2 separate regions of the Homo sapiens genome follow, and region 2 is linked to region 1. Evidence: fine-mapped expression QTL. A gene starts in region 1. The other region holds a variant in brackets. All regions are shown on one strand. Distances are between the middles of the regions.

Region 1 (3,004 bases):
CTCGCCACTGCACTCCAGCCTGGGCAACAAGAGCGAAACTCCGTCTCAAAAAAAAAAAAAAAGAAAAGAAAGTGACAATGTGAGAGATTCAGGACCAAGGGTGTACAGAGCTGAGCCGGGCCCAGGAGGTGTCCGGAGAACTTCCCTTAATCAGGGGCCAGCGCAGATCAGGAGATGGAGTAATCCTGACCCACATCCTCTGGGAGCAGGGGAGGGGCCCTGGCCAGAGAGCCCAGCCCTTGCAGCAGGGGCCTGGGGCAGGCAGATGGCAGCCCCACCTAACAGCCAGAAAGAAACCGCAGCAAATCACAGAGGCCTGACTTTGCCCCCTACCTTCACCCACTGAGAGAACCGGCCACTGTCAGGCCAGGAGTATGAGGAGGACAGGCACTATATTTTGTAGAAGAGGAAATGAAGGCTGAGAGGGGAAGTGACTTATCTACCATCCCACAGAAAGGCAGGGCCTGGCCTAGAGGGAGCCCTGACGGACCACTAGCTGCTCCTATCCATGGCCCTGGAAAAGTGGGAGGTGGGCACTGAAGGGACACAGGCAGTCCGGTCCACTCAGGGCTTCCCAGCTGGCCAGGGTTCCCCCAAGGCAGAGAACTTCATCTTTCCTCCCCATCCAAGGAGGCAAAGACATGCCCCTTCCCTTGGGCTGAGAGGGGCTGAAGCTGGGACCCCCTCAGGGGATAAGAAACAAATTCACCTTCCTCTAGACCCAACAGGCCCCTCATTTTAACTTAATCATTCCACAGGCATATATTAAGTGCTTGCTGCGTGCTGGACCCTCGGATAAAGCGGCTGCTGGCAGAACTGAGTTTGCAAGTAAAGGGCAGGGGCAGGGGCAAGACCCAATCCCAGGCCAAGAGTGTTTTGAGTGGTTAGAAGGAGGCTCCAGGGACACAGTTGGTCCAGCCCTCGGGTGGGGAAGGCAGGGACTAAGATCAGACCCTAGGTGGGCCGGACTCCCGATTCCTTCCCTACAGCTAGCTGCTCAGATGGATGTGGAGCGGGGAGAGAGTGGGGGAAAAGATACAGAGACTTATACAAGGGAGAAAAAAGCAACTTCTCCAATCCTCCTGCCACCAAAGCATGGTCACATCCTTGAGACAGGAACCCCCCAACACACACATACACACACACACAGAGTCAGGATCCGATCCTTGAGACAGGAACCCCCCAACACACACATACACACACACACACAGTCAGGATCCGACACACACACACACACACACACACACACACACAGAGAGAGAGAGAGAGTCAGGATCCGACCACGGTAATCGGGGTTCGAGCCCAGTCACCCAGGCCACTTTCAGCAAGTCATCAATCTCGCTGGAGTCTCAGTCTCCTGGTCAATCCAATGGGAACGGTAACAACCACGACGCCCCACAACTGGTGAGAAAGTCAGCGAGAATGAAGGAGGACGCGGTCTGCGAAGTCCCCGATATGGATCCAGCCCCTCGCCCCTGCCCCATTTGCCCAGGCTCTTCCTGAGGTGAGACTGGCGGGAGTGGGGCGGGCAGGAACGAGGGCCTGAGCCCAGGACCGCAATCCCCGTGAGGGGCTCGAGGACCCCAGCCCAACGCCCCGCCGGGCCCCGCCCTCACCTCCTCCTCCATGGCGAGTCCGCCGAGGTCCCGCCGCTCCGCCACTCGCTTCCAGCGCCGCGCGGGCTCTGCCACCGCGTCTACGCCCGGCCAGGCGGCGACTCTCCGCGTTCTGTCCCGCCGGCTGCCGGGGGCCCAAGAAACTTCGGGGGGGCGGGGCCGGGGGCGGGGTGAGGCTTCCGGGGGCCGGGGCGGGGCCGGGGAGGGGGCGGTGGGGCCGGGGGCCCGGCCCAGGGCGGGAAATGGGTGGGGAGGGGCGGGGCCTGGGTTGGAGACTGGACGGAGGAGCCGGGCGGAGATGCAACTGGAGGAAGAGGGCGGGACGGGGCGGAGAAGGTTTCCCGCATCGGCGGAGGGAGAGGGACTAGGAGGGGGCTGCGGCGGGGGAGGAGAGGGGGCTTCCGGCCCAGAGACTGAGGCGAGGGTGGCGGGAGCGGCGCGCAGGCAGGGCTGGGGTGGGGCGCACACAGTGAGCGCTGGGGGCGCTGGCGGTGGAGCCTTTGAGGTCTCCCGAACCAGTGGGCTGGGGTTGCGAGACCGAGCCGAGCTGCCCTGGGCGGCCAGAGATGTGGGCACACAGAGGCTCCTCCTCTTTCCTCCCCGACGCCGGGCAGTGGGCGGTGGCCTGGTCTTCTCCCTGGAACCTCTGGGCGGGGCCGGGCCTGGAGCTTGGGTCTCTGTCCGGAGGGTGGTGTCACAGGAAGAGCTGGAGCTGAGAGTCGGGACTCCGGGGTCCCTTTAGGGGGCGGCCCGCCCCTGGCTCTCAGGGGTCTCCAAGCGCAGTGTTCTCCTGCTCTCCTTGGGCATCGCTCAATCCCTCCCGTATCTGAGGGTCGACCATCCCCCCGATCCCGCGGTGAGCTTGCAGCCCTGACAGCCTTACTGGAGAGTGGGAGTGTGGGGACCAGCAGAGAGTAATGATTTTAGTTATACCATGCGCCCTCATTTTACATTGGAGAAACTGAGGCCCAGAGAGAGAAAGTAACTGGCTGCATCGCAGCCTGCAGCACCGCTCCCCTCTCACACACACACGCATACTCCCCCTTAGCTCTCCTGGTCAACCCCGTCCCATGCCAAGGAAGGGAAAATTAAGTGCATGTGAGATCAATGGTGACCTTCTTCGGCTCTGGCTGCCATAGCAGCGGCTGTGCCAGCGACCAAGCTCCCCTTTCACGGCCTTCTGCCAGCCCTCAGGCTCCCAGGCTACTTCCAGCCCTGTACGGAAAAGGGCAGCCTGGGGCTCCCAGGCCAAGGGGGAAGGAGATGCAGGTACACTTCTCCCTCATGCCTAGGCCTGGGATCCTTTAGCTAAAGGAATGAAGAAAATTGAGGCTGATATTATCACACTGGTCAAGAAAAAGAAAGAATAGAAAAGAAAGAGAGAGGAA
Region 2 (2,500 bases), 31 kb before region 1:
ACACACACACACACACACACACATTTTAACAAAACAAATGGGCAATACCAGGTCCCCTCTGAGCTTTTGTTTTTTTTTTTTGAGATGGCAGTGGCACGATCTCAGCTGACTGCAACCTCCGCCTCCCAGGTTTAAGCGATCCTCCCACTTCGGCCTGCATCACCATGCCCTGCTAATTTTTTTTTGTAGAGACAGGATTTTGCCATGTTGCTCAGGCTGGTCTCAAGCCTTGAAGATTGGCCTCAAGACATCTGCCCACCTCAGCCTCCCAAAGTGCTGGAATTACACATATGAGCCACCACCTCCCCTGGCCGCTCTGAGCTGTTATTTCCTCCTCTCTAAAACCAGCAGGTGAGACTAGACGTCTCAAAGATCCTTATCAGCCCCAATATCCTGTGATTCCATGGATGGAATAGTTTCTCAGACTGGACGGTGGGCTGACGAATTGTGTTGGGGAGGGCAGTCCCCTAGGGACACAGGCTTCATGGGGAGGAAGGCCAAAAGCAGACCAGCCCCACACACCCTGCTCTTTAAGACTCCACTTTAGAGGTCCAAAGGGAGAAAGGGGCCGGGCACGGTGGCTGACGCCTATAATCCCAGCACTCTGGGAGGCCGAGGCAGGTGGATCACCTGAGGTCCGGAATTCGAAACCAACGTGGCCAACACGGTGAAACCCCGTCTCTACTAAAAATACAAAATTAGCTGGTCGTGGTGGTGGGTGCCTGTAGTCCCAGCTACTCGGGAGGCTGAGGCAGGAGAATTGCTTGAACCCAGGAGGAGGAGGAGGTTGCAGTGAGCCAAGATCGTGCCACTGCACTCCAGCCTGGCTCCAGCCTGGGCCACAGAGCAAGACCGGGTCTCAAATAAATAAATAAATAAATAAAAAGGGAGGCCAGGCGTGGTGGCTCACACCTGTAATCCCAGCACTTTGGGAGACCAAGGCAGGCAGATCACGAGGTCAGGAGATCTAGACCATCCTGGGGCGGGCGCCCGTAGTCCCAGCTACTCGGGAGGCTGAGGCAGAAGAATGGCATGAACTCGGGAGGCGGAGCTTGCAGTGAGCCGAGATTGTGCCACTGCACTCCAGCCTGGGTGACAGAGCGAGACTCCATCTCAAAAAAAAACAAAAAACAAAAGAGAGAAAGGGATGGCTGGCCTAATAGCCTTCTGGACCCTCTGATAATCCTCCCCAGGGTGAGTGTGAGTTTGAAGCCAGATAGGCCTACGGCTTGGAGTCCAGATCTGCAAGCTGCCTGCTGGATGTTGAAGGGTCCTGTCTCCTCCCTAGGCCTCAATGTAGGCATCTTCCCTTCTGTGGGCCACCCCCTCTGGTCCCAAGCCCTGCCTGGCCCCTCCTCCCATAAAATTATGACAACAGAGAGTGGAGGCTTGTGGGCAAGTTCCTGAGGAGGCTCAAACTCAGCTGTAACCCTTGGAGCCACC[G/A]TCATTTCCCCTCTCCCGCCTCCCCAGCTAGGAGGCTGAGAAGTTTCATCACAGCTGAGCTGTTGTCCTTATAAGGGAAAGTCCTCCGAAGCCTCTCCTTTGGGCCATAGCCAGCTGGTGGAGAACCTGCCCAGGCCTTGGGGTATCCTCCCAGTGCCAGGAAAGGTGGGGGTGCCCCAAGGACTCTGGGGTGAGCCTCCATCTGAAATCACAGACCCTCCAGACAAATAGCAGAAAGCAGTCAGTTGTGGCCCCAGGCCAAAACCCCAGGAGGGTCAAATCCCAGGTCCTGACACTAACTTTGGTCCCCTACCTAAGTTGCTTAAGCCTCAGTTTCTTAACCTGTAAAATGGAGTGAAATTACATCTTCCTTGTGAGGCCACTGTGGTGACTGTGAGAGGTTAACAGGCCTGGCAAACAGTAGGTGCTCTGTGAGGCCAGGCTGCTGGAGTTTATTAAGCATTTTCTTTTCTTTTTTTTTTTTTTTTTTTTGAGACATAGTCTCACTCTGTTGCCTCCTGAGTAGCTGAGACTACAGGCGCCTGCCACCACTCCTGGCTAATTTTGTATTTTTAGTAGAGACGGAGTTTTCCCGTGTTGGCCAGGCTGGTCTCGAACTCCTGACCTCAGGTGATCCACCCACCTCAGCCTCCCAAAGTGCTGGGATTATAGGTGTGAGCCACTGCACCTGGCTACCCCTGGGGTTTGAATCCAGGTGTGTCTGCCTCCAAACCTGAAGTCATGTTTTCTCTACTTACATCCTGCTGTTTCCTCTAAGAATTTTGTTAAATTATGTCAACAGGGAGGAATTTCCATCATCACCTCTCCACCATCCATGTTCCATCACAGAGCCTCCTTGGTCACAGAAACCTCTGTGGAGTGAGTTTGTCTTTTCTGACACCCCTTTTGTCTGGGACATGAGGGTAGGGGTGGGGAGGCAGGAAGACAAGACAGGGAGAAGGGAACAAAACACAGTGACTCCCGAGACAGGATGCCGCCAGGGCCTAGGCAGGGGTAGAGGAAGGGGCAATCTGGTTGCCCCTCCCCCTGTCCTGGG

The links.
Region 2: its variant is fine-mapped to the expression of PLEKHO2 in tibial artery (GTEx, PIP 0.98). The same link has a PIP of 0.9 or more in whole blood.

The regions. Positions count from the first base shown.
Region 1 is chr15:64,840,641-64,843,644 of GRCh38, reverse strand. PLEKHO2 (pleckstrin homology domain containing O2) reads right to left here and starts at 1,730. Exons shown (of 6, transcript NM_025201.5): 1 at 1,617-1,730. The coding sequence starts at 1,628. It also overlaps a transcript of LOC124903508 not described here. RefSeq lists enhancers at 523-1,074, 1,107-1,630 and silencers at 1,438-1,877, 1,888-2,207.
Region 2 is chr15:64,872,181-64,874,680 of GRCh38, reverse strand. No RefSeq gene overlaps it. Among named protein-coding and RNA genes, the nearest start is that of PLEKHO2, 32 kb to the right of the region's middle. RefSeq lists enhancers at 1,526-1,575, 1,596-1,685. The variant G/A (reference allele first, on the strand shown) is at 1,444.